Regions from separate parts of the Homo sapiens genome. Here region 1 is linked to region 2. The links come from fine-mapping of genetic effects on gene expression. A gene starts in region 2. The other region holds a variant in brackets. All regions are shown on one strand. Distances are from middle to middle.

Region 1 (15,982 bases), 21 kb after region 2:
GTTAAGTGCCCCATAATGACATTTTGGTCAAGGACAGACCACATATACAGTGGTAGTCCCATAAGATTATAATGGAGCTGAAACATTCCTATTGTCTATGGTGTAGTGGTCCTGATGTTGTAGCGCAATGCATTAGTTATATGTTTGTGGCAATGCTGGTGTAAACACACCTACTGCACTGCCAGTGATATAAAAGAATAGCACATACAGTTATATATAGTACATAATATCTGATAATGATAATACATAACTATATTACTGGTTTATATATTTACTATATTATTTATCTTTATTTTATTTTTGAGACAGAGTCTCATTCTGTCACCCAGGCTGGAGTGCAGTGGCGCGATCTTGGCTCACCGCAACCTCCGCTTCCTGGGTTCAAGTGATTCTCCTGCCTCAGTCTCCTGAGTAGCTGGGATTACAGGTGTGCACCATGACACCCTGCTAATATGTTTTGTATTTTTAGTAGAGATGGGGTTTCACCATGTTGGCCAGGCTGGTCTTGAACTACTGACCTCAAGTGATCACCCCGCCTCGGCTTCCCAAAGTGCTGGGATTACAGGCGTGAGCCACCACGCATGGCCTATTTATAATTATTTTAGAGTGTACGCCTTATACTTATAAAAAAAAGCTAACTGTCAAACAGCCTCGGGCAGGTCCTTCAACAGATATTCCAGAAGACATTGTTATCATAGGAGATGACAGCTCCGTGCATATTATTGTCCCTGAAAACCTTCTAGTGTGGAAGTGGAAGACAGTGATATTGATGATAGGACCCAGTGTAGGCCTAGGCTAATGTGTGTGTTTGTGTCTTTGCTTTTAACAAGAAAGTTTAAAAAGTTAAAATAAAATACAAAAATTTTTAAATAGAAAAAAGCTGCCCAGGAACAATGGCTCACACCTGTAATCCCACCATTCGGGGAGGCCAAGGTGGGTGGATTGCTTGAGCTCAGGAGTTCAAGACCAGCCTGGGCAACATGGTGAAACCCCATCTCTACAAAAAATACAAAAATTAGCCGGGTGTGGTGGCATGCGGCTATAGTTCCAGCTAATCGAGGGGCTGAGGTGGGAGGATCACTTGACCCCAGGTGGTTGAGGCTGCAGTGAGCAGTGATTGTGCCACTGCACTCCAGCTTGGGTGACAGAGTGAAACCCTGTCTCAAAAGAAAAAAAAATCTTAAAGAATAAGGATATAAAGAAAGAAAATATTTTTGTGTAGCTGTTCAATGTTTGTATTTCAAGCCAAGTGTTATTACAAAACAGTCAAAAGTTTTTAAAAATTTAAAAGTTTATAAAGTAAAAAAGCTAAGTAAGCTAGGGTTAATTTTTTTATCGAACAAAGAAAAATATCTTTGTATAAACTTAGTGTAGTCTAAGTGTACATTGTTTTTATTTTATTTATTTTTTATTTTTTTGAAATGGAGTTTCACTCTTGTTGCCCAGGCTGGAGTGCAATGGCATGATCTTGGCTCACGGCAAGCTCTGTCTCCTGGGTTCAAGCGATTCTCCTGCCTCAGCCTCCCAAGTAGCTGGGATTATAGGCACCCGCCACCATGCATGGCTAGTTTCTTTGCATTTTTTTTTTGAAATGGAATTTTGCTCTTTGACCCAGGCTGGAGTGCAATGGTGCAATCTGGGCTAAATGCAACCTCCACCTCCCAGGTTCAAGAGATTCTCCTGCCTCAGCCTCCTGAGTAGCTGGGATTACAGGCATGCACCACCACACTCGGCTAATTTTTGTATTTTTAGTAGAGACAGGGTTCTCAACTAAAGAGAACCATGTTGGCCAGGCTGGTCTAGAATTCCTGACCTCAGGTGATCCACCCACCTCGGCCTCCCAAAGTGCTGGGATTGCAGGCATGAGCCACCATGCCCAGCCAGTATACAGTGTTTATAAAGCCTCCAGTAGTGTACAGCAATGTCCTAGACCTTCACATTCACTTACTACTCACTCACTCACTCACCCAGAGCAACTGCCAGTCCTGCAAGCTGCATGCATGATAAGTGCCCTATATAGGTGAACCATTTTTTAATATTTTATACTATATTTTTACTGCACCTTTTCTATGATTAGCTACACAAATGCTTACCATTGTGTTACAACTGCCTACAGTAATCAGTACAGTACTATGTATGGGTTTGTAGCCTAGGCTATACCATGTTGCCTACGTGTGTAGTCGTCTATACTGTCTAGTTTGTACACTCTATCATGTTTGCATAAAGATAAAATCACCTAATGACACATTTCTCTGAGTGCATTCCTGTTGTTAAGCAACACATGTATAAACATTTACAAGAAATAGCTCAAATTTTTTTTTCTTTTGATACAGGGTCTTGCTTTGTCACCCAGGCTGGAGTGCAGTGGCGCAATCTCGGCACACTGCGACATCTACCTCCCCGGTTCAATCGATTCTCCGGCCTTAGCCTCCTGAGTAGTTAGGACTACAGGCACGCACCACCACGCCTGGCTAATTTTTTTGTATTTTTATTAAGAGATGGGGTTTTGCCATGTTGGCTAGGCTGGTCTCGAACTCCTGACCTCAGGTGATCTGCCCGCCTTGGCCTCCCAACATGCTGGGATTACAGGCATGAGCCACCATGCCCAGCCATTACGTTTTTTTGGTTGTTTAATTTTTTTTTTTTTAAGAGACAGATTCTCACTCTGTCATCAAGGCTGGAGTGCAATGGCACAACCATAGCTCACTGCAGCCTCCAACTCCTGGGCTCAAGGGACCCTCCTGCCTCAGCCTTCCCAGTAACTGAGACTACAGGTGTGAGCCACCATGCTCAGCTAATTATTTTTTATCTTTTATTTTTTGTAGAGGGGGGGTCTTTCTATGTTGCTCAGGTTTGTCTCAAACTCCTGGGCTCAATCAATTCTCCTGCTTTGGCCTCCCAAAGGGCTGGGATTACAGGTGTGAGCCTGAAAACCTTCTAGTGTGGAAGTGGAAGATAGGCCCAGGCCACTTATGTTTTCAAGTTAAGCAAGGTTTAGGTCACTTATGAAGCCTGACTAGTTTTGTTTGCTTAAGGGATCTGCAGGCCTGACCTCGGTTTTCATTTGTTTTAACAGTGTCTATGTGTATGTGTGTGTTTATGTACGTGCATGATGGGGGGAAAGCTCAGAAATCAAGTAAGCCAAACACAAACATGTAATTATAAGCAGGGATAAATTCTATGATGAAGAAGTATGGGCCACGGGAGAGTACTTGTGCCAGTCTGGTGATCAGGAACAATGTCCTTTGGGAAGTGACATTTGAGCCATGCCCTGAAGTATGGTAGGAGTTGGTTAGGGGTGAGGCAGTAAGACCCAGAGCTGGGGCTTCCTGCACAAGCTCAGCTGGGCACTGAGGACCCAGTGGACTCTGCTACAGGGCAGTGAGGAGCAGAAAGGCTGAGGAAGGCTGGGTGTGGTGGCTCACACTTGTAATCCCAGGGCTTTGAGAGGCTGATGGGGGAAAATCGGTAGAGCTCAGGAGTTTGAGACCAGCCTGAGCAACATAGCAAGACTCCATCCCTGTAAAAAGCTTTTAAAAATTAGCTGGGTGTGGTGGTATGCATCTGCAGTCTCAGCTACTCAAGAGGCTGGGGTAAGGATTGCTTGAGCCTAGGAGGTGGACGCTGCAGTGCGCCATGATTGTGCCACTGTACTCCAACCTAGGAGACAAAGCGAGATCCTGTCTCAAAACTGAATGAATAGGCTGTGTGCGGTGGCTCACTCCTGTAATCCCAGCACTTTTGGAGGCTGAGGTGGGTGGATCACCTGTGATTGGGAGTTTGAGACCAGCCTGGCCAATATGGTGAAACCCGATACAAAAATTAACTGGGCATGGTGGCTCACATCTGTAATTCCAGCTACTCGGGAGGCTGAGGCATGAGAATGTCTTGAACCCGGGGGGCAGAGGGTGCAGTGAGCTGAGATCGCACCACTGCACTCCAGCCTGGGAGACAGCGAGACTCCATCTCAAAAAAAAAATAATAATAATAACAATTAAAAAAAAATTAAAAGGCCAGGGAGCACTGGCAGCCTGTCCAAGGTTTCAGGTCACTTTAGTAAAGGGAGAACAATGGCTCCTCCCAGGACCTCTGGGATCTCAGCATTGATACGACAGTCATGGAAATGCTAGGGCCCAGGCAGACCATCTCAGGGAAAACAAGTGGCTCTGCCCTGCCTTGGCCACTTCCTGGCCCTCTGCATGCCCCAGGGTCTCAGCACCAAGCTGTTCTCAGTGAGTAGCTCTCATTTAGTGCCAGGGCTCTCGGGCTTACATCCTACGATGACGATGGAATGCATAAAGGATGGGGCTGTGATAGCCCAGAGCTAGGGGTTCGAATCTCATGAGATGTTCATGGAGCCCTGGGAGGGAGCTCAGTGCAAGTTCATTTCTCTTTTTTGGTTGAGATGGGGCTCAGAGGAGGAAGGACTTGTTCAAAGACACACAGGGAGTGTTTCAGTGTGGGACGGAGGTTTATGGAGAAAGGGTGACCATCCAAGGCTTGGACAAAGATCATGACTTCGACCAGCAAGCCTCAACTCTGTAGACTTGGTGGGGGCCAGGCCCTCCCAAACACACCTGACAGGTGTCTGTGGTCTTGGGGACATTGTCGCTCCCCTTCCTGCTGATGCTCTGCTGTCCCTCTCCCATGAAGCGTATCTCTTCGCCGTCTCCCATCCTTGCTGAGAGAGGATGGGTTCTCTTCTGACCAATACTGAAGATCTTTAGTAAAGTTCTCTTTTTTTTCATTTTCTGAAAGTCCCTCTCTTGAGAAATCAGGACAAGTGAGTCAGGGCCAGGACAAAAAACAGTGTGGGACGAGTGTGGTGGCTCACGCCTGTAATCCCAGCACTTTGGGAGGCCAAGGTGGCGGATCACTTGAGGTCATGAGTTTGAGACTAGCCTGGCCAACATGGTGAAACCTCGTCTCTACAAAATACAAAAATTAGCCAGGCGTGGTGGTGCATGCCTGTAATCCCAGCTATTCGGGAGGCTGAGGCAGGAGAATCACATGAACCCAGGAGGCGGAGGTTGCAGCGAGCTGAAATTGGGCCACTGCACTCTGGCCTCTTGGCAACAGAGCCAGACTACCTCTCAAAACAAAAACAAAAACAAACGACAAACAGTGTAGACTTTGTGTTTTTCTCAAAAGCACTGTCAAGCCAGTGCCCGCAGCAGTGGGCCTAGACACCTCCAGTCTTGCCTCAGGGTCAGTTTCCAGCCTCCCTGGACACTTCCCCCAGGTATGTGTACTTTTTGATTGTCCTAAATCCAGAGTCTGTGGCCTGACCTGGTTTGTCACAGCTCTCAGTCCCTCCCCATCCCGAATCCCAGGGAGCCGCAGGTGTGTGCAGAAGAGGCACACCACACTCAATACATCTTGCATCCTCGCTGGACCCAATCCATTGGCTTGGTGATGTACAGACTGAGCCTCATTATAGCCGTTCGTTCCTGTTGACCTTTCCAGATCAATCTGCCAGCTTGGCTTCTCCGAGTTTCGCTTGTCAGCATTTCTCCAATCCCATCATGTACTTTGGACCTCTTTGTTGGGTGGCTTGCTTTATCTGAAATTTTCAGATTTGACTTCAGGTCTCTCCTTTGTCCCTTAATATGGCTTAATGGTGGACCCTGTCAGGGGTAGAGAAAATATTGAGGAGCCCTGACTTTGAGGTGCACAAGTTAGAGGGTTAGACAAGTCCAGCCACAACCAGCCCAAGCTGCAGTGTAGGGAGGCCTGTCCAGCTGCTCCACGGTTGAGGGTGGAGCATACAGGAAGGCTTCCTTCTTGCTGCAGCCCAGGTGTTCTGGCTGCCCTAGCTGCCTGGCTTTGGTAGAAGAAAGAAAGGCTCTGTCTCTGACTTGTCAACTAATGGCACTATGAGATTGCACATAATTAACCTGGGTCTGCTCTTCCAAAAGCCTTGGGCCTCTGACTGCAACATGGAGTCTGGGTATCACTCCCCATCCCTGCGCCACTCACCTGCTCTGGCGCTAGGCGTGTGCCTAATCACTTAATTTCTCTGTGCTGCCTCTTAGGTATCACTTCCCCTGATCCCAAATACTTACCAGGTGTGGGATGATACCTGACTAGTTACTCCTTGGAGGTATCTGCTTCTCACCGGGGACTCCGAAACCAAACGAAAAGCAAGGCCAAGCCCAGCCTAAAGGACGCTTCCTACATGACTTCAGGCTTGCGGGGGCTGGAGCGTGGGGGTGGCAATGGAGTTGGGGGGGGCTCAGGGAGGGGATGTGGAAGTGCTTTGCTTTGCAAACTCTAGAGAGCCGTGTAAATAGGAGTGATTATTCTGTCCCTTCCCTTTCTTTCCAACAGGAATCAGCATCCCACAGCCCATGTTCAGCTATGAAGAATGGAAACTGAGGCTCCGGGAGGGGTATAGGGAGGAGCCAGCAGGGTCTTGAGTTCATATTAGTGCCCTTTCCTCCATAGGCACATCTGTGTTTTCTTTTATTTTATTTTGAATTTAATTTTTTTTTTTTTTGGCAGAGTCTTGCTCTGTCGCCCAGGCTGGAGTGCAGTGGCGCGGTCTCAGTTCACTGCAATCTCCGCCTCCTGGGTTCAAGTGATTCTCCTGCCTCAGCCTCCCGAGTAGCTGGGATTACAGGTGTACACCACCACACCCAGCTGATTTTTGCAATTTTAGTAGAGACAGGGTTTCACAGTGTTGGCCAGGCTTGTCTTGAAATCCTGACCTCAAGTGATCTGCTAGCCTCGGCCTCCCAAAGTGCTGGTATTATAGGTGTGAGCCACTGCGCTCGGCCACATCTGTGTTTTAAATGAGAGGAAAGGGGATAATGTGCATTTTGTGGAAGCTTGGGCCGTTTGTGTCTAGGACTCTTATGATCTTCATAAGTTTTCCCCCAGGGAGGACACTGTTCCACTTAGGGAGTCAGGACCCCCAGTCCTTACAAGATTCAGCCTCTCAAAATGGAGACAGCAGTTCCAGGCCTGGGCTGGGTTCTGTTCACACTAGGAGAGGGCAAGTGAGTGGTGTTTGGGATGTGGGGAAGTATTATGAAAACAGAGATGCTCCAATTCCTAGTGATAGGAAACCATTAAGCTACTTGGCATCTTAAAACCAAGAGCGGTTCAAGTTCTGAGATTGTTAACACACCTTACAACACCGCCGCCGTTATTAGGAAGAAGCTCTGTTTGATGACGTCCCACACTGTGGGTACCTTTATGAACAGGAATTTGCTTTTTCAAATCCCAGAGAAGTAAGATTAAAGTTGGCTGTTCTCCATCCTTGAAAAATTTGGTTTTAGGGTGAATTCAAGAATGACTGACCATACAGAATGGGGAGCAAACTTGGGAAGAAAGAAGGCACAGTTCAGAGCTCTCCCAATAGTCACCCCTGAACTGCACCCGGACCATCAGTTATCTCTGTGGGTAGAGCTCAGGAATCTAAAATCCATTTTAAAATTAAAGTATATCGGGGCTGGGCGCGGTGGCTCATGCCTGTAATCCCAGCACTTTGGGAGGCCGAGGTGGGAGGATCACGAGGTCAGGAGTTTGAGACCAGCCTGGCCACATGGTGAAACCCCGTCTCTACTAACAATACAAAAATTAGCCAGGCATGGTGGCAGACACCTGTAGTCCCAGCTATTCGGAAGGCTGAGTCAGAAGAATTGCTTGAACCTGGGAGGCAGAGGTTGCAGTAAGCCAAGATTGTGCCACTGCACTCCAGCCTGGGCAACAGAGGGAGACTCTGTCTCAAAAAAAAAAAAAAAAAAATTAAAGTATGTCATACATACTGTTACAGGCACAGACCTTAAGCGTACAGCCCAGTGAAATTTTACACATCTATACAGCTATATAACTACCACCTATATCAAGACACATTCCAGGAACTCAGACTCCATCATACCCCTCCTCAGCAGAGGTAACAGACCCACACCTCTCCTGCTCCGGTGGTAATTAACCACTATTCTAACTTTTCTATCAATTAGTTTTGCCCATTCTTGAGCTTCACACAGATATACATTGTCAGGCATGATGACTCATGCCTGTAATCTCAGCACTTTGGGAGGCCGAGACGGGAGTATCACTTGAGCCCAGGAGTTGGAGACTACTCTGGACAACATAGTGAGACCCCCGACTCTACAAAAAAAATAAATTAGCTGGTCATGGTGGTGCGTGCCTGTAGTCTTAGCTATTTGAGACGCTGAGAGAGGAGAATCTCTTGAGCCTGGGAGGTTGAGGCTGAAGTGAGCCGTGATTGCACCACTGCACTGCAGCCTAGGTGACAGAGTGAGATTCTGCCTCAAAAAAGAAAAAATATGGCCGGGCGCGGTGGCTCAAGCCTGTAATCCCAGCACTTTGGGAGGCCAAGGCGGGCGGATCACGAGGTCAGGAGATGGAGACCATCCTGGCTAACACGGTGAAACCCTGTCTCTACTAAAAATACAAAAAAAGAAAGAAAAAAAAATTAGCCAGGCATGGTGGCGGGCTCTTGTAGTCCCAGTTACTTGGGAGGCTGAGGCAAGAGAATGGTGTGAACCCGGGAGGCAGAGCTTGCAGTGAGCCGAGATCGCACCATTGCACTCCAGCCTGGGCGACAGAGTAAGACTCTGTCTCAAAAAAAAAAAGGAAAAAGAAAAAATATATATACATTGTGTACTTTTTGGCATCTGGTTTATTTTGCTCAATATCACATCTGCGAAATTAATCTACACTGTGTGTATGAAAGGTTGGTTCTTTTTGTTGTGATGCAGTATTCCGTCGTGTGACTACGGGACAATTTGCTTATCCGTATTCCTATCGGTGGGCATTTGGGCTGTTACCAGGTTCTGGCTGTTATGAATAAAGTTGCTATGGATATTCTTGTACACTACTTCTGGTGAGCGTATGCACTCATTTCGCTTATGTAAATATCTTGGGTGGAATTACCTGATCATAAGGTAGGTGTGTTGGCTTTGTAATGTGCTGACTTGGTTATGTTGAATTCCCTTTTTTGTGTATTTCTGGTTAGAGCGGAACATGAGGGTGTCTCTTCAGGGAATCTGGAGGGTGGAAGGGAAGCAGGAGTCGGTTTCTGGCTCACACATGTTGTGACTGAACTGCTGGTACACCTGGTTGGCATGGAGCTGGCTTCTCCTTTGGCGTTGCCTACTGTTGGGGCAGGTGTGTATGTGGTTAGCTCCATGCAATGAACCCGGGCTTCTGCAAAATACATTAACAACGACAGAGACAACAAAAGCTGATGTGGATTTAAAGGCTTCAGTTCATCCTCATGGGGTTCCAGTTCATACTTATGGGGCTCAGTTTGCTCTGTCTTGCCCACTTTATATCCATCTTCCTTTCCCAGTTGCCTGACCTGTGGAATTCAACTGCAACATGACATGCAAAGATAATAGCCTTACAAGATTGCTTAACTACCTCCTACAATTGAGTAAGGCCAAATCCCTGTAGCAATCCACAGAGAGAGTGGTTCCACATCCCTGGTTGAACTTGGCTGATTCATTAAGTG[T/A]TTGTTTAACTTATTTCGAAACTGCCAGACACTTTTCCAAAGTGGTTCTTACTGCTTACTCCCTCCAGTTGTTCTGCGTCCAAGCTCCACCTTGATATTTTCATTCTTTTAAATTTTACCCATTCCGGTGGGTGGATATACCTGATTTTTAAACAAGCTCTCCTTCAGCTTGTTATGAAAGCGAATGGGTAAGAAACTAGTCTGTGGAAAGACTTTAGTGCTTAAAGGATGCCAGTTTGATTTTCAATGATATCTTCACCACTTACTGGCTGTATGATCTTAGTTGACTTTTTATCTCTCTAGGCTTCAGTTTTTTCATCTATGAAATGAATTATTAATCATCGCTAACAAGTATTGACTGCTTACCAGATGGCAGACACTGTTCTGAGCACTTTATGTGTATTCCCTCATTGAATCCTCTTGACAGATGTTGAGGTGGGTGCTATTATTATCCCCAATTCAGAGAAGGGGAAACTGACTTAGGTAATCTGCCCGAGGTTGCAGAGCTTATAAGTAACAGAGCCAGGATTCAAACCCAGACGGTCTGGCTTCCAAGTCCATGTTTTTACCATCTCTGTCCCTCCATTATAAGGAAGCATGAGGATACAGTGACAACACAGAAGTGAATTCTCTGCAAAGGGCAACACAACTAGTATGTATTGATTATTCCTCTTCAGTGGGTCTCAATGGGAAATTGCCTTTCAGTTCTATTAAATACGCAGAAATTAATCTAAGCAAACAAGGAAACAAAAAGCCTTCCACAATCATGATAAATGCAGCCAGAAAGGTAAGATCTTCATAGGATCCAGAAAAATCCAGCACTGTCCAAAGGAGAGGACACCCAGATGGCTCCCTGCCTTGGATATTCTGATCCTTGGCAGGATGGAGGCTTTATAGAGGTATGTCAAGCTTCACCTATGTGTCAATCCATCAACTCCCTTCCCTCTGACTTTGTACTCAACAAAGAACCTTCTGGTATTGATTTCCTTTCCCAAAAGCCTGTCCTTCCTGAAAGAGATTGTGCTGACCAGTCAGCCTTAGGATTCCCATCTGCTGGGTGGTTTCATTTCTCAGTGTTAATTAATAAATTGCATTTCAGGTTTATCAATCAGTCTCTTATGAGTTTGTTTAGTGTGGGTCATTTCCCCTATACTTAATCACAACAACTAAGCTCCCAGGGAGGGGTAGGGGAGGGAACACCATTGGAGTAGTATAACAGAGATGTCCAAAGAATGGTATGAAAAGATATACTATCAGGCTGAAGAGGACACAGAGAGGACTTCTGTATGGGGAAGGGAACATCAAGACAGGATTCCTGGAGGCAGATCACATTGGCACAGGAAAAGAGGTACTTCAGCATAATGGTGAAAACATGGGCTCTGGATACTGGGAAGTCTATCTCTTCCCATTTACTGGCTGAGTGACTTGGCCAAGTTACTTCATCTCTTGAGGCCTCAGTTTCTTCATCTTTAAAGTTGGCATAATGATAGTACCTCCGCCTCCTTATGGGGTGGCTGTGGGCATCAAATAATAATATATATTACATATAGCTCTTAGCCCAATGCCTGTCCCAAAAGCAGCACTCAGTAAATGACTGTCATTACTGTTGTCATTATTAATACCCAAAAGGGTGCTTTCATTGAGAATTCTAGAAAGGCACACATTTGAGGCCTGCTGCCTCCCTGATGCCCCTGAGGCAATTTTGTCTTAAAAGGAATAAGGATTGAGTCTGTGTTTGCTTTAAGACCTGGAGGGCAGAATGCTTTTTGCAGATAGGGCTCTTTCCTTGAGAGTGGTCACAGCCCATCTTGCGGTTTTGCAGCCCACGAGGAGAGCTGCATGTACAATCTATAAGAACCCATCAGCCCCGGGAACTTCCGTGGTTTCTGAGTCACTCTCAGGCCACTTCAGCTTCCAAGCAGAGGCTCCCAGGGCGGACTCACCATATAGGCCTTTTCTGCCCTCTCCCGTGCAGCATCTGGAGGAACATTGCAGCACCCCACGACAGATCCCTGCTTAATGTCAGCCTCTGTACAGAGTCCCAGCATTTCAGCAAGTCAGGGCTAAGAGAGGTTCAGCACTCGCTTCACAGAGGTAGGAATGGAGGCCCCAAGAGAGAAAGGTGCCCGGGGCAGCCCACCCAGGGGGCTCCAGAGCCAGGACTGGACCCTGGGTCTCCCACTTCCTTGTCCAGTGCTCTGTCTACAGTCCGCAGTGGAGCCTTCCCTAATTTCACCACAGACTTGCTTCTGGTCTAATGCCATGCCTTGAGTATCATCTGGGGTTCCCATCCTACATGTGCTCTCCTGGCAAGTGGAGGTTCCCCTCCACCCCAGCTTCTCCTTCTCCCTCCAGCTAATCCCTACCCACTTCCCCATCCTCCAGCACCATGGAAACTGTTCCAGTCTCTTCCGGCTTCCCTTTGCCTTTTTCCACAACAAAAGTCCAGTGTTCAATCGGCCCCAGCAGTTTCCTGCTCTTTTCATCTTTGGGGTGTTGGGCAAAGCTCTCAATGTGAAAAACCCCGTTGTTTTCACTCAGGAGTCGTCTCCTTCTCCTGGATCCATTTCCTCTTTTCATGATCATGCGTGTGGGTGGGTGTGGTGTCTGTGTGAGCAGGGCAGGGAGACACAGAATCACAGAGAGGCAGCACTACTCTCTTGTTTTAATCAAGGGTGCTGTCTGAAAGAATTACCCATCTTCATTCCTATTAGTAATAACTGGTACCCCCATCAACCCGATTCCAGAACTCATGCTCTGTGTAGCTCTTGGGAAGCCTCCCAGGAAGGCTGGGTAGGGCACAGATTAAGAGCATCAGCTGGCTGGGCATGGTGGCTCACGCCTGTAATCCTAGCACTTTGTGGGGCCAAGGCAGGCAGAACACTTGAGCCCAGGAGTTTGAGACCAGTCTGGCCAACATGGCGAAACCCCATCTCTACAAAAAATGCAAAAAAATTAGCTGGGCATGGTGGTGCACGCCTGTAATCCCAGCTACTCGGGAGGCTGAGGCAGGAGAATCACTTGAACCTGGGAAGTGGAGGCTGCAGTGAACTGAGATCACACCATTTCACTCCAGCCTTGGTGACAGAGTGAGATGCTGTCTCAAAAAAAAAAAAAAAAAAAAAAAAAAAAGCATTAGTTTCAGTCAGAGCATCAGGTTTCTATCCCAGTCCTGACACTGCTACCTGGTGATGTTGGGGGAGTTGCTTCGTCCCTCTAGGCCTCAGTTGGCCCAGATAATAGATGCTAATAACAACACCTATCGTGAGATTCAGTGACAGATTAAGCAAAAAGCGCTTCGAATCAGATACATAGTCAGTGCTCAGTGCCCAGCAGGTATTATTGATATTCCTTATTTTTCTTCTCAGGGGTAGGACGTGCCTCCATGTTGACACAGTGTTCCCCAGCCTAGTCCTTAGAGTTGCAGGTTTAGATATTGTCAGTGCACTGAGGCATTCCTTTCTAGCAAAGTCTATCGGGAAGTGCAGTTACCAGTAAACAGTTGCTTGATGAACATAGAAGTGGAGCTGGGGCTTGGGAGGGTGGGTAGCAGTAGCCTCATAAGCCCTGGTGTGGTGGGGCTTGGGGCTCTGCTTTCTCTTAGGCCTGGCCCAGTGCTTCCAGTATCTGGTCTGGTGGGGGAGCTCTGTTTTCTGCATGGTGAAAGGGAGGCTGATCCAGGCTGATCCTCTGCTGCCTCTAGCATCCACTGAAGCTGAGCTGGCTGCTCTGAGGGGCCAGAGTGGCCCCCACCCTCCAGTGCCTCTTTGGGTATCCTTTCAGATTCACCTCTGTTAAAGAGAAAGGTCTCCCCAGAGCAAGGAGGCCTCATATTTACTTGGCTATGTAGTAGTTCCCCACCCTCCTGAGAACTGCTTTGAACACACTAGGAGATACCCTGAAGAGCCAGCTCTAAGACTCCATCCCCTTCCTGTCTACTGTGGCTCATGAACAGACTTCCCACAGCTTACAGGACAATCCAAGCCCCTGCCTTAAGCCCAGACAGTCTTGGGGGGTTGTACTGAGTGCATTTGGGTGTCATCTAGAGATCAGTTCTCTAGGGTGGGACTTCTTAAGCAAGGTAAACTGAGCTCACCCATTACTTAGTGGTTTTCCCCCTAATTTATTTCTTTTTTAGGTTAGGAACACTTTGAAATTCTCCCTAAATGTGACTTTATTTCCTCTTTGTTTTCCAGTAAGTCAATAATATTTGTTAACAACAGTAGCTGCTATTTATTAATAGTGTACTAATTGGGCAGTTTTCATACATTATCTTTAATCCATACAGCTCGATTCCAATTTTATAGATGAGGAGACGGAAGCTCAGAGATACCAGTAATTGGCTCGATAGCAGTGTGCTTGTATTATTTTTGGCACTGCCTCAAGAGGATTAGAATTTTCTCTGCAGGTGAAATGATGTTTGCATTTACCTTTTGCTTTCTGACTTCCAAAACAGGCTGTAGAAACCCCTTTCAAGACCGTAGGTGGAAAACCAAACATTTTAATTTACATGAGCCCATTGTGAAAGGAAAGCTTATGTTTGTTTGTTTATGTGTTTGGCGTATCCGAAATCAAAGCCCTTTATGTGAATGGCTCAGAGTTTATCTACATATACAAATTTAGAAAGTGATGTCAGAGGGTAGGAGAGAATATCTGGACTCTGCCCAGAGAGTGGCAATTGCCCTCGCTGAGGTTGTTCAGAGGAAGTTTGAGGAGAGAGGTCTGTGGACAGGCAGGGACTGCATTGGAAGGTGGTGCTCTTGAGGACTAGAGGATACTAGCCATTGTTTGTGCCAGGGGAATGATGGAGTGCAGCTCACTTATACTGCCCTCTTTGGCAAACCCTCTTTCCCTAACCTAAACATATCCATCTTCCCACTCTGTCCATAAAAACATCCATAGGGTGGATCCTGGATATCCAGACTTGCTGATGATGGGAAGGAAAACCACCTCCAGCATTGGTACTTGGGCAGTAGGATGCAGGAGATCCAGTTCTATGCTCCCTCTTCCCCTCAAAGCAATGTCTCATGGCTGGCATCCCCAGACCCTGGACTGGTCCTTACCAGCCAGTTGACTGGACCTCAGAAGGGTTTTGAGCAGTTAAGTGAAGCCATCCAGTGGGAACCATGGAAATAAACTCTTGCAGGAGAATGGCGATGGCTTGGAAGCAGATGATGCCTCTGTGAGAGATGATGAGTGTCTGCATAGAGCAGTGGCCACGGATAGATAGGAGAGATATTAAGGGGTGAAATCAATAGGACATGATTGATTGATGTGGGCTGAATTCTTAATGCCCTCACTTAGATGGCGACGCTGGCCTCAAATCTTTCCACTTTCTTCACCACCCTGTGCTCTAGCTGGTTCCTAAATGTTATTGTTTTGTTGAGGTTCCGTGCCTTTCAATGTGCTGTGCTAGCATCTGCCTGGAAGACCATTCCCACACTCCAGAAATCTTGGGTTTCTTTGTCTGTCTCTCCCACAAGAGAATGAGCCCCTTGAGAGCAGGCACTGAATCTCTTCTCTACGAATCCCGGCACTTGGCACAGAGCCTGAGGTACCACATGTATTTGTTGAACCAATCAGTCAATTAAAAAAAAAAAGGTGTGAGATGATGAGGAAGGAGGCGAAGAGAAAAGGATGAAGACATCGGGTGCACCGTCAGACCTTATTATAATCACTTCTCTCTCTGATGTTACTCATTAATCCTCATTGGAGCCACGCAGGAGAGTGATCAGAATAGCATCTGCCTTTTCTAGCTGCTGGAATTCGAACCAAAGAACATGGGAATGGTTCAGAGGATATTCTAATTTCCTGTCCCATCAGTTCAGTAAGACTTGTGTTAGTGGAGGCCACGTCTTCTGCAGACATTGATGGGAGATGTGGAGTGGAGGCTCTAAGAGTCAAGAGAGGTAACAAGATAAGGTGGACAGAACCCTGGACGACCTGCCCCGTGTCCCGTGCTTCAGTCCTGGATGTACAGATAGCCCATGAGCTAGATCTTTCTGGCAGGCTCCTGCAGATTAACATTCTAAAATCTGTCTCTTTACTTTGACTTTTTTCTGTTTCTCCCTTGCTACTTCCACACTTACTGATCCCCCCAGGAGACTAAAATGTATGCCAGAGCAGAAGATAGGGCATGCATTAATTTCAGAGTCTTTGTGTCTTGCAGTAAAATAGAAAATCTTGCATCTTAAGCCCTGTTTGTCCTGGGATGCTATATTTTTGTGGATTTTCTCCCATAAATAATGTTATTTTAAGAAAAGACTTGTTTTCTCTAATGTCCAAATGTTTGTTAAGACGGGGTGATGAGAGCATACGTTTCAGAGTTGGGAAGGTACTGCAGCTTTGTAGAATGACCGTGGGCAAGTTCCTTTGAAATTCCTCCCCAGAGCTGCTTCTCTGGCTCTGTCTACATAACTGCAGACTAGAAAATCTACTACCCTACAATCTGCCTATAGCACCTGCGCCATGCAGGGACCTCATACACCCATCTTA
Region 2 (13,401 bases):
TTCCCATGTCTCCCCCAACCAGGGCTCACCTCCCCCAGCCCATGATAGTGGTCCCTGCAGGCTCTCTGAAGAGCGACCCCGTGCTGGGGGCTCCTCCATAACAGCTGCTGCATAACAGTGACTCTGTTGCCATTTCTGGCCCTTGCCACTGCCGTGCAAAGCAGCTGTAACCCAAGGAGCTCATCCATAATTCACGCAGCGGCTCTCACTGGAGGCAAGGAGGAGGGGAGGGGAGGGGGCTCTGGGCTTCACTGCCCCAGGCCTGCTGGGGCTGGAGCGAGCACTCCAGGGCAGAGGTGGTGGGACTGGGGGGTTGGGGGACTAGAGAGCTGTGCCTTTCCCTCTCTCCCCCGCCCTCAGTCCCTGCCCTGCCCAGTGTGTGCCCTTTTCTTTCTTGCCACGTCCCTTCCCCACCCCCTGTTCTCACTCCTCCTCAGCACCACCACTCCTTCCCTCCAGGCCCAGGCCTCCTGTCTCTCCCGAGGACCACGGCTCCACTCCTGGCCTTCATTTTGTGAATTCCCGGTGGAGACTGGGGCAAGATGCACAGAGTATCAGAGCTGGAAAGGGGGATACCTCGGTGGCCACCTAGAGCCGACCCCTCACATCATAGGTAACACCATTGAGGGCTGGGGAGGGGAAGTGTGAGTTTCTGAGCACCCCAGGCCTCCTGACCAGGTCTCTACAGCTCGCCTTCATTGTCTTTCTCAGAAGCCTTCATTTCATCCCTCCACTACTTCATGGACAGAGGAAAGCCCTTTGTAGCAGCCTCCCCCACCCTCTCTGCTCACCCCCTCCTCTAAAGTCAGCAGGGGATGGCTAGAGCTGCAGGGGAGAGTACAGCAGGGTAGGAGGAAACCAAGAAGCACCTATTTTGTCCTAGGCACTGCATTTGTACAGGTTAACTTCTTTATACATTGAACACAACACACATAATCCCCTGGAGGTCAATATTGTGGCCCCCAATTTGCAGATGAAGGAAGGGAGCCCCAGAAACATGACACAGTGGCCTCAGGTCATGCAGCTAGTACAAGGTGGAACCCAGATTGGAAAAGAGGGACATCAAGCCCATGTCAGAGAGACACTCTGATCTTTCTTTAAGAGGTGGCCACATCCTCCGCAGAAACCACGCCTGAATGTGTGAGACACTGCCCTTGAGGTAAAGACAGGAGAGAAATTGCACCCAGGTGCCTAGGGCTGGGCCAGCCACAATGCTGAGTCTGTTTGGCTATTCAGGGTCAAGGCAAGGAAGGGACTCCAGCTCTCTCTGCAACTTTCACCTCCTAGGCTTCCAGTTGCGGTTGTTCTAGAGTAGTGATTACATGTGGGAGTCAAGAAGAGATGACCCCTGTCCAGAATATATGGCCAGAACTGACCAGGGGAGGGAGCCAAGAGAGGCCAGAACATGGTATTGATCCCGGAAGGCTGAAGTGTCCAGAGCCAAAAGTATCTGTTCACTGAGGGACCACTGTCCAGGACTCTGGCTATCAAACCTTGGAGTACCAAGGCTCAGAAACAAAGTTCTCAGCCCACAGGCCACTCTTTGGGCCGGAGGCCCCTGTAGAAGAAGGAACTTGAGGAGAAGAAAACTGGACCCAAAGTAGGGGGCAGGATCCAGGCTACCCACCCACAGGGCAGAGTCGCTGGTGCAGAGTGGTCCCAGGAAAGGATGCTCCCTGGAAAGGCAGCAGAGGCCTCTCGCTCTGGAAGGAGGGGCACAGGGTCCCAGACGAGAAGCAAGGGCTCCACACCCAACGGGCTGCTTCAGGGAAGGGCTGGGGCCTGCGGGCAGATGCTGAGGGGGCAGGGGCTGAGGAGGTGGGAGCTGAGGAGTGGGATGGAGGTGGTGGTGATGCCAGTGACGCAGGGGCCTGGGGAGGCACTGACGCGGGTGACGGAGGTTTAGAGCTGCTGCAAACAGCTTCTCACTCTGCCAGAATGTAACACCCCAAAATAAGCAGCCACCGTGGTGGCGGCAGCGGCTGCAGAATCCAACGTCCAGGCCGGATAAATAAATGGCAGCACAGGAGCCAGCCTGTTTGCCCACCCTCGGAGGCTGTCACTCCCCTTCCAAAGTCCTCACCCTCTGTCCCTCACAGCCACCCCCAGGGCCCTGAGCTCAAAGCACCCCCCATCTGGCCCACCAGCCACTCCCTGAGAGAAGAAATGTGGCAGGCAGGCGCTTTGGGAATGGAGGGCTTCCCACGTGGAAGTGGTTACCAGAAGCCTCTTTGTCTCATCCCTGGGCAGCACCCCCAATCCCCAGTCCCTCTCTCTCAGCCTTTCTCTTCCTCCTCCTCTTCCCTCCTCTCCAGCCCCTCTCCCATCCATGGTTCCCTGTCTCCAACCCTCTTCGCCGGTTCCTGATACCCCTTCTCTAGTCACCATCCCCATCCTTCTCTGGTTTCTGATCTTTCCATTCTCCTTTTCCATTCCAGTCCCCAGGGTCCCAGTCCTGATTCTCTTTCCCGCTACCTCCATCCCAGGATTCTGGGTCCCTGTCCATAGTCTTCTTCCCATCCCTCCCCTGATCTGGTCTTTCCTCTCCTTCCCTCTTCCTTGGTCTTCACCTGGGTCCCACTTCCCTCCACGCTTTTCCCATCTAACCTTTATTCCTTCTCCCCCTCCCCCGCTCCATCTCCCTCCTCCTTTGAGCTTCCCTCACCACTTTCTCCATCTTTGAGTTCTCCTTCCTATCCCTCTCCCCCTGACCCCTCCCCACCCCACCCCCAGTCTCTGGCCCACACCCTTATCTGTCACTCAATCAGTAGAACTATCCTCTTTCTAGCGCCCTCCATCTCTCCTACCAGAGAGGGCCACTTGGATTTCCCTCTGCGCCTCCTACCTCCCCAGACAGCCCCCTACCCACATCTCCTGTCTTCCCAGGTGGCCAGAAAGTGCTGAGGCACCGGGCAGGAGGAGTTGCTGAGTCGGCGCTTCCCCAGCCGGCCCGAGTCCTCAGCGTCCCCCGGAGCAGGTGGAGCGGGGACAGCGGAACCTGAGCCTCCCTCCCCGCTCCGGGCCGGGTCCACCTGCCCCCTGCGTCCCACCTCGGTCACGAGCTCCTCGCACGCGCCCGCGGGCTCCCAGCCAAGTGCCCTCCTGCTGAGAACAGCCCTGGCGGCGGGGGCGCGGCCCCAGCGCTGAGCTTTTCCCCTTCCCCAGGTTACCCCACCTCCCCAACTGCCCCACCCTCAATCCCTGAAAGAGGGGACGCCCTGCTTCTCTCCCCAGGATGCCCTCCGCTCTCCCGCCGCTGGCGTTCTTACCTTGCAGCAGGCGCCTGAGCCCGGGCAGCATCTTGTCTCGATGCTCGGGGGAGGGGGCAGCGGGGGGAGGGCGCTCCCACTCGCTCCCTGAGCCCGCCGGATGCACGGCGGGGACCCCGCGGGGCTCCGGGAGGGCCCGGGAGTCCCCGGGCTGCGTGGCCGGGCCGCGGCGCTCTACCCTGCGCCGCCCGGGCTGCGGGCCTCGGGAGGAGCCATCGGCCCCGACGGGACGGGGCGGGGCGCGACGGGGCGGGGAAGGCTGGGGCTGGCCGTCGACGCCCAGCGCCCGCGCCCCGCTAGCTGCGCTGTCCGCTCGAGAGTCCGTCAGTCCGTCTGTCCGTGTGCCCAGGCTGCTAGCCGAGGGAGAGTGGGGACAGCGAGGAAGCTCTTCCCAACCACCCCCACTCCTTCCCGCACTCGCTGGCTCCTCCCTCGTTTGCTGGCTTGCCGACTTAACCCTTTCTCGACCACTAGGAGGCGGGAGCGGCTTTCTAACCCCCTCCACCCCGCCCCCCTCCCCCCCGCTTAAGCGACCCGGAGGACTGTGTTCGATCGTCCTCGCGGCGCCACTCTTCTAGAGAAATCCCTTCTTGGGGGAATGCGGTAGTTTAGAGGAACGCCGTGGACTTGTCCTGTTCCCCCCTCCCAACTTTCCAGGAGAAGATGAGCTTCTGGGTCACCCCCTCCCCCGCCCCCAGCCGCGTCCCTCGCGCCAGTGTCCCAGCCTCCAGCATTTCTGTCCCCTGGGACAGCTCCAAGATTCCACTTTTCCTTCCACTCCCAGACCTCAAGCCCAGTGTGCGACTATAAGAATAGTATATGCAAGAGTTTGTGCGTGCAAGATCGAGTGCATATGAGCGTGCACGTGCGCGCAAGGATGCTTGTGCAGGTGTGACTCAGGATGCTTGCCCGTTACCCTTTGTACGGGCTTGGGGAAGCGGGGGGGGGGGCACGTGAGTGTGCACACGGGTGAGCCGCTGAAAGTCCGCCAGCGTGCATGTCTGAGCTGGTGGGAAACGTGAGGCTGTGCGAGGTTTTGCGCTTGCGATCTTGGGGATGGGTGGAAAGAAATATGTGCCCGGTGTGTGTATGCCCCTTAGTGCATTTACAAGCGGGTGCGAGATGGGCGCGCGTGCGAGTGTGTGCGTTTTTTTGTGTATGTATGATGTGTCCGGGAGGGGAGACCTTATCTCCCGCGGGGGTGCAGGAGAGGACCCAAAGCTGGGGAGAAGACTGTTGGCTTCGCGTGAACTTCCTCTACCCCCTTTTAAAGAGGGGCGGATTATGGTCTCACTGGAGCCCCTCTGGCCCTTCATGGCCTGGTCACAGGCGGTATCAGCAGACCCATCACCTAGGCACTTCCCTACAAAGGCTGCAGGGCGGTTGACCCAGGTCTTGACTCGGCCCGGCGCGTCCGCGGAGCCGCCCCGGCGTAGGATAGGCTCGGGGCCCTCGGGGGAGCCGCTTCGGGTACGGTGGCCAGGCAGCGCTGGCGGGGTTGGGGCTGCTGGAGCCTCAGGTGCGGCGGTGCCGGGGCTGCTGAGCCCCCTGGGCTGCCGCTCCCGCGAGCACAGAAGCCCCTCGCCCCGCTGCCCGCGCCGCGGCTCCTCCTTTCCTATCCGTGCCAGGGTCCAATGCAGTGCCTGGCATACAGTCGGCTCTTGATAAATGTTGGTCTTATTCTTCCCATTCATTCTCTGCTCCCTCCACGGTCTCTCGTTCTTCTCGCGTTCTCATTCGATTTCTCTGGTTTTCTCCCCCGACTCTTACTCATATTTCGTGGTCTCTGTCTCTCTGTTCCCTCCCTCCCTCACTCTCTCTCGGACCTTTTCTGTCTCTACTCGTCTGTTTCCCTGCCCGGTCTTCTGTCTTTCTCACTGTCTCTCTGTGTCTTCGTCTCTCTCCTCCTCCCCGCGGGGCTCCCTGCGTCTCTGTCTCTCGTCTCTGTGTGTCTCGGTGTCTCTGCCTCCCTTTCTCTCCCCCTCTTCCCCAGTTTCATTCCCAGGCTCCCGGCCCGTGGGCACCTCGGCTCTCGGGTGCCCCCTGCTGGTTCCATTTTCGGACCTTCTCGGCCCCCCAGCTCCTCTCTGTGCCCCTAAATTTCCTTTCCCGCCCCTCTCGTTTTCGGATCAGGTAGAAACAGAAAGAAAAGTCTCTGGGGCTCCCGTCTTCCCTCACCCAGGGCTCCCCCTATTTCCAGGAGGCAGGACAGGACCCTGCGTTTCCCCAGGACCCACCCCGACTAGGGCCTGCGCCTGGGGGGAGGGCCTGGAGGCGGCGGCGGGGAGGGAGTGTTGGGGGTAGCAGGGTGGGGTTTGGCGTCCTTCCCCGGAATGAGCCGCGGCACAATCTGTCGCTGGGTTTGTTTGCCGAGCTGCCTCCGGAGCGCAGTGGGGCTGGCTCCCGGGGAGCGAAATATCACAAGATGCGGAGACAGACGCTGAGGGGCGGGTGGGCGGCGGGCTGACTCAGGTGTGCTGTCATCGGTTCCCGGGGCCCGCGCTCTTCGGGGAGGGGTGGGAGGGGACCCCGGGCCCCCAAGGCAGGCGGAACCCCGAAGCTGGGGGGGAGCTCCTCCTCCTGGGACGAGCTGCGAGGAAAGGGAAGCCCCGTCCGGGAATCCCTGGCTCCAGGCAGTCGCAGCCCCTCTGCTCATCCCCGCCCCTTATACAGGTGTCACGGTTTCCCATAATTATCTGCTGACTCACCCCCTCCACCCCCAACTAGACTACCAGCTTTTTGAGGGCAGGGAACTCGTGTCATCCATTGTCGTGTTTCCAGCAGGTGCCCACTGAAGACTTTTAGGTGGCTGGCTGGTGGGTGGGTGGCTGGCTGGTCTCATTTTACAGTAGGTGCCACAATGCATTTGGTCTTCTCTGTAGAGCACTCTGACCCCTCTTACCTCCCCCCATCCACATTTGCTGTCCCCACCCCACCTAGCTCCGGTTAGGGTTGGGGGGAGGGGGGACGAATTGGAAATTTGAGTCTGGAGATCAGAGTTCTCCAGGTGACCCTAGACAATGTACTCCCCTTCCTTGTGCCTCAGTTTCCTCATCTGTACGGTGAGGCTACCCGGTCATCGCGAGGCTGCATTAAGTCTCCAGGCACCCCAGGCATGAGAAAGTGCTTGGTAAAATGAGGTGTGTTGGTGTGTGGAGGGGTGGTAGGTAGCTAATGTCGTTACTATTTTGGCAGTAATTCTTTGGTGGCAATGATTGTCCCAGTAGAATCAGACACATCATGCCTGAACATGAGTTGGGCTTCTGCAGTTAGACATTTTGAGATCGAGGACTCGGCCTCTGGCTGGACTCTTGGACACTGGGCTGGAGGCTTGGCCGGGCTTTGGTGTGCTGGGTCTTCAAGCCTTGGCCGCAGTGCTGGCCCGCCCTCTGGTGGCTCTAGGTGGATCTGCAGCCCCACGGGAAGCCAAGATCTCTGGAGATGGGCTCAGCGTCGGATTTTCCCTGAGAAGGAGGAGGACACCCGCCCCCGCCCACCCCATTGTCTGGAGAACAGCTGGCTTTGGAAAGGAGACCAGGTAGAAGGAGGGGTTTATTGGCACAGACTGGATGAGTCTGGACTTCCGAGTTCTCACTTACTAACAGCGCAGCTACTCTCAATGTGCCACCCAAGATCCCCCTTCCCTCTGGGCATACCCACCGAGTGAGTCCACAGAACCTCCCTGGCTCTTCCCTTCACCTCTTTGTCACCTTCACTGTGTAGAACACTTGGCGGTTAGTGTACGAGGTCCGGTGGCTCAATGGGCGAGAGCACAGGCTTTGATGGGTTTGTGCCCTGGCTCTGAAGCTCTCTAGCTAGGGAGGGGACCTTGGGCAAGTCGCTTACCTTTTCAAACCCCAGTTTTCCTATTCAGAAGATGGGAGGGGCTGGGCATGGTGGCTCGTGTTGGTAATCCCAGCAATTTGGGAGGCTGAGGCGGGCGGATTGCTTAAGACTAGGAGTTCAAGACCAGCCCTGTCGACTTAGCGAGACCCCTGCCTCAAAATTAACCAGTCAGTCAATCAATCAATCAATCAATAAAAGAAATTGGGGGGTGGTGACACTAGTTCCTAGCTCAAGTTTGAGGCCATCCCTGGTGACTTAGAAGGACCTTGTCTCAAAATAAATAAATAAATGAATAGATAGATAAATACATAGATAAATAAATAAATAAGATGGGAGGAAGAAGGACGATACTTGTTCCCAGCTCATAGAGTTGTTTGAGGCTTAAAAGAAACAAAGCATGAAAGAACATAACAGAGTAGCTGACCCTGTATTTGGTAAATGCTGATAATATTATTTTTACTTTTATCCTAGTGACTACCTGGAGAAATAGGCATTGCAGTCTAGAGGCAGAAAGAAAAATGATGATCTGCTGTCATTTATTTATTTATTTTGAGACAGTGTGTCATTCTGTCTCACTCTGTCATCCAGGCTGGTGTGCAGTGGCATGATCCTGGCTCACCGCAACCTCCGCCTCCCAGGCTCAAGCAGTCCTCCCACCTCAGCCTCCCAAGTAGCTGGGACTACAGGCAGACACCACCACGCCTGGCTAATTTTGGTAGAGGTGGGGGTCTCACTATGTTTCCCAGGCTGGTCTCGAACTCCTGGAATCAAGCAATCTGCCTGCCTTGGCCTCCCAAAGTGCTGGGATTGCAGGTGTGAACCACTGCACCCAGCACCTGTGGTCTCATAAGGAGTGAGTGGCAGAGCCAGGTCTGGGGGTCAGTTCTTAGATATGACTTCCTACCCACGTGTACTACCCCTCGGATGACCTTCACAGTTCCACCCTACCTGGCACTTGCTAGGGCTGCCCACTGTGGTAAAAGGAATCCTGGTCCAAATTAAAAGTCCTGAGTTCTAGCCTGGTCTCTGCCTCCGAATGGCTGAGTAACTGGGACAGACCTCTCCTCTGTGGGCTTCAGTGTCCCATCATTGAAGGGAATATCTTGGACTCCATGTTCTAGAGAGTCCTGCAAAGCTACATCTTCGTATCATCCAGGTGTCTCTGTGACTCCCAAACTAGAAGCTACCAAAAATGGAGCCTCTCAGCTAGATCCCATGCTGCCTCCACTTTCCCAGCTCTGGGCACGTGATGTGGGCCCTGGGGGAAAATCAGATTTTCTAGGGATTCCTTCAGACCCCACCCTGGGCTCCTCAGCTCTCCCACTGGTCACCAGGCCTGCTCCTGAGCCAGTCAATGGAGACACGTGCTGCCTACTGTGCTGGGAGGTGGAGGGACGGGGCTGCACTTGTCACCCAGAACCCTTCCACAGTGAGTTCCACACCTTGTTCTGCCTGGCCTGAGGGGAACAGGGCTCCTGTCCAGGCCCTTTCTAAAACAGGCAAGAAAACCTAAATTAGTATAAAGGGCAAGGTTGTCAGAACATGTTTTTCTCTTTCCCTGTCTCATTTTTAGGGTCCCTGTCCATGTATTGTATGTATGTATGTATGTATGTATGTATGTATGTATGTATGTATGTGTGTATTTATTTATTTTGAGATGCAGTCTTGCTCTGTCACCCAGGCTGGAATGCAATGGTGAGATCTTGGCTCACTGCAAACTCTGCCTCCCGGGTTCAAGCAATTCTCCTGCCTCAGCCTCCCAAGTAGCTGGGACTACAGGTGCACGCCACCACACCCGGCCAATTTTTGTATTTTTGGTAGAGATGAGGTTTCACCAGGCTGATCTCAAACTCCTGACCTTGTGATCCATCCTCCTCGGCCTCCCAAAGTGCTGGGGTTACAAGTGTGAGCCACCAGGCCTGGCCTATTATTTATAGTACAACGGGTATATATTAAGCCCTTGCTTCATGTCATGAACTTACGTGTGCTGGCTGATGTAGAGTAACTCTAGCGGGGAGAGTCTATTAATGTCCCCTTCTTACAGATGGAGAAACAGGCTCAGAGAGGTAGTGCTGCTCTTAGATCTGGTCAAAAAGAGTCCTTCCCTGAGCCCTGTGCTTTAGAGGGCTCTGCTTTGGCCCTCATCTAGCCAGTTTCCCTCCATGGGGGCAAGAAGTCCCTAAGACCAAGGAATGTGCCTCCCAGAAGCTGCATCTCTCTTCTAGACCACACTTAGGTTATCCTGGACCCTGGAATCTCAAAAAGCCCAAGTGGACTTCCCGGCCCTTTGTGGGCTTCTTCTCTGAACTACCTTTCTGCCAGTGCATGAACCCATGGCCAAAGGGTGGCCAAGGGGCAGATGTTTGGAGAGGGTGTGGTTGGGCCTTAGACATGTTGGTTGGATATTCATGTGCATGGACATGAGGCCCCTTGTTGTCTGAGATGGAGCTGTGGTTGGGAAGTGGAGGGAAGCTGCGTGTGTTTTGTTTTTTTTTGAGATGGAGTTTCGCTCTTGTTGCCCAGGCTGGAGTGCAATGGCACGATCTTGGCTCACTTCAACCTCTGCCTCCTGGGTTCAAGCAATTCTCCTGCCTCAGCCTCCCAAGTAGCTGGGATTACAGGCGTGTACCACCATGCCTGGCTAATTTTGTATTTTTAGTAGAAACGGGGTTTCACCATGTTGGTCAGGCTGGTCTCGAACTTCTGTCCTCAAGTGATCCACCCACCTCAGCCTCCCAAAGTGCTGGGATTACAGGCGTGAGCCACCGGGCCTGGCTGCTGGCTGTATTTCTGTATAGAACTTCAAGGAGCTGGATCATTCTAAATTTGAACCTAGATTTCAAAGGTGAGGTTCCTTTCCAAGTGCAAGATTGATGCTTGCAGTTGGGAGGCTAGGGATGCCTTGGGGGCAGAGGTTGCCCGGCTTGCACTAGTGGGGTGGTGCCTCCCAGGCTGTGGTACCAGTGCCTCCCTTTGCACTCCAGCCCTGCCCCTGCAAGTGTTAGGGGCAGCTGGGTGGAGAGGTCACATAACTTCATCAAAGGTTACATGACTTAAAAGCTGCAAAGCCAGGCTATGAACTCAAGTCTGGGTGAATCTTTTCTTCTTTAATGAAGCTCCACACCAGTCTTAACCAGAAGTCAGAATTTTAGCTCCCTGGAGTTCTCTTGGTTAGAAAGTTGAGTCCCATTGTTTCTTGGAGTTACCTTCCAGTGAAGAGAGCCTCCCTATCCCACTTGACTCTGAACTTGCTGAGTTCAGGGTCCATGTTGTCTTTGGCTTTGTTTATTTTGTGCACCTGGCACAGCCCTGCAGAGTAGGTGCTCAGCAAATGTTGCTGACCTATCAGAAACACAGTCTACTGTGGGAGGTGCTAATCAAACAATCATGGTGCAAGGTGCTATGGGTAACATCTGTGTTCAGCAGAGTGGGTAAAGTCTAGGATGGAGGTGGGGTTGGGGAAGCATTGGGAAGCCCTGCCTAGAGTGGCCGTGAGATTAGTTGCTGTAGACTCTCTTAATTTGAGAACCCTCTATCATGGGGCAAGAGACTCTGATGATTCCCTGTTGCATTTTGCACAACTCTCCAACCCTCCCCCATTTCCTTATAGGCACCGTTGGGGATGGCATCCCTTCATTAGGTGATCCCATGTGAACAACGCTTTTCTCATTTCTGCAGTAAGTGAACAGGACAGAACAATTCCTTTCCCCTTAAATTCTGTGGGTTGAAGCCACTAGATTTGCAAGGGAGAGTGAGTACATGTATGTGGGGTATTGTAGGAGGTGGGGCAAATGGAAGTGCCGCAAGCTCTAATATGGGGGACACATGGAGCCTCCTGCTACTGGTAGTGGGGGACTCAGGCCGTTGCCCCAGTTCAGGCCCCCACTATAGGATCAAACACAGTAGGCCAGTGACACATATCTCTGCCTCTCAGCCCATTTTCTCCAATTAATTTAATCTGTCCAGGGTGTAGTTTTGATCATGCATTCCCCTGCTCAGGAGCCTCAGTGGCCAAATCTGGCTGGAAGCAATTAATGTCTATTGACTCTGAAGTGCTCGCTCACATTTATAAAACAAGCCTCAAGACTTCAACAGATAAACAGGTGAAGGAAGTGGATGACTACTTCACCCAAGAGGGTATGCAGAGAGTAAACAAATACTTGGAAAATAGTTCAACCTGTTAATGATCAAAGAGATAGAAATGAAAGCCGTGTGAGGATAGCATTTCATACTTATTAAATTAGCAGAAGTTTATAAACACCATCACCCAGCACTGGCAAGGTTGGATGACGTCTGTGTTCCTACATCTCTGGGAGCAGTGTGCAAAACTCTGGAAAACAATCTAGTAAAATATAACAAGAGCCTTGAAAATATTATTACTTTTTGACTGACTAATCTCACTGCTGGGATTTGATCTTAAGAATATAATGCAATAGACAAAAAAAAGCTCCAGGCATGACCCTGGCATTATCCTCCATTTCCCCAGACAGTGAAATGGTTAAGAAAACTGCAGTTAACATAGTCAATGCAATATTATGCAGCCACAAAATGATAATTATAAAGAATATGCAGAAACATGGAGACCGGTTTATAACATCATATTTGTTTATAAAAGTCAGGATAAAAGAATTTGCATGAACACTGATTGCGACCATGTAAAGTAAGTATTCATGTTGACAAAGTCTGGAGAATATGCAAAATTGAAAATTATTGAAGGTTGGGAGAATGATGGGTGGTTTTCCTTTTACTTGAAGAATGTTCTTTGTTAATGTTGGAAAATTATTTTCACAACATAATGAGTTCTGTAAAAACAAATCCTCTTTTATTGCTTATAGAATAAAGTCAAGATGCTTTAGCCTGTGCTCACTGTGATGATTACAATGATCACATTTATTAGGTACACTTACTACATTCCAAAGAGAGAAGTGAGCACGTTGCACAGGTGATTTATTACTATTATTATTCTTTTCTTTCTTTCTTTCTTTTTTTTGAGACAGGGTCTCACTATGTTGCGCAGGCTGGTCTCAAACTCCTGGGCTCAAGCAGTCCTCCTAGCTCGGCCTCCTGAGTAGCTGGGATTACAGGCTCATGCTACCATGCACAATAAAATCTTGTGATTTTACTGAGAGCTCCTTCGGAGATTCTGGCAGGACAGAACAGGTGCTCATATACCCTTGACTGAAGAATGGTCCTCCTCTATCAGGAAAGGTCTTCCTCTTTGACCAAGTGTGCAGTTTCGGGAGGAATGCATGCGGAGTGGTGAGGGAGAAAGGGGACACCTGCCCAGCCAGCCTGATCAGCCGAATCAACTCTGGAGATCAGTGGGGTGACAGGTGTCACAGCCAGATCATCCTCACATGTTGTGATTTTATTGAATCTTCACAACAACTCTGTGAGATAAAAACAAACATTATCTTCAATTTACAGACTAGACATCTGAGATTCAGCGAGGTTAGCCCTCCTGCCTAATTTTACACAGTTAGCAAAAAAGCTGGGTTTCAACCCCAGCCTGTGTAATTGCAGAATTTGAGCTGAATTCTGGAATTGGCATTGTATGTTGATGTTTAAAGAACTTCAGTCATTAATGTATCGCTATCATGATTTTGGGGATAGCTGTGGCTCACACATTATGTACTATGACTTAGTAATTTTAAAATTTAAATCAACTCAATTTTTAAACATGTGAATGCCTACTTTAGCATTTTTTGTAAAAGCAAGAATCCCCTTGGAATCATTCATTAAATATGTTGGTTTTGTTTTTCAGTGCGCGATAAAATGAAAACATTAACAGTATAAAGGAGTCATACGAGATCGTTTTGTACACCCCCCTTTGGGAAAAACTGAACTGCCTTATGCTCCAGCCTCCCATTCCGGTCTTATCAGCACCTGCCTGGTCTGTCTCCCAGACCTTTCCCAGCCTCACTCTGCTGGGGAAGCTCAGACCACCCTATACCTCCAGTTGCCCTCAGTCTCTGCCCTTCCCCAGGTCTTGCCTGAGCCAAATCCAGATCAAAGCCATTAGTGGACAAAGAGGACACAGATTCAGAAGGCTGCCCACTACAACAATGAATTTCCAGTTATTAAACTCCTACTGTGTGCCAGGCATTATTCCAGAAGCTTTATATACATTATCTCTATTGGCTTTTTATAATGACCCTTGAAGTGGGTATGATTTTTACTTCTATTTTATATGTTAAGAAAGTGAGGCACACAGGGGTTAAGGCATTTGCTTATCACACGATGGGTAAGTAACAGCCAGGGTTCAAGGCTAGTACTGTTGAGCCCC

Alleles and levels. Positions count from the first base shown, and alleles are read on the strand shown. Sizes are in standard deviations (SD) of each study's normalised expression.
As copies of T replace A in region 1, the expression in thyroid of the gene that starts at base 3,638 in region 2 goes up (moderate effect, 0.72 SD a copy in GTEx).

Evidence for each region.
Region 1: its variant is fine-mapped to the expression of RTN4RL2 in thyroid (GTEx, PIP above 0.99).

The regions. Positions count from the first base shown.
Region 1 is chr11:57,428,293-57,444,274 of GRCh38, reverse strand. No RefSeq gene overlaps it. Among named protein-coding and RNA genes, the nearest start is that of SLC43A3, 9.2 kb to the right of the region's middle. The variant T/A (reference allele first, on the strand shown) is at 9,488.
Region 2 is chr11:57,450,765-57,464,165 of GRCh38, reverse strand. RTN4RL2 (reticulon 4 receptor like 2) reads right to left here and starts at 3,638. Exons shown (of 3, transcript NM_178570.3): 1 at 3,270-3,638. The coding sequence starts at 3,300. It also overlaps the pseudogene RN7SKP259. RefSeq lists enhancers at 1-298, 1,388-1,926 and silencers at 3,362-3,631, 4,731-4,790.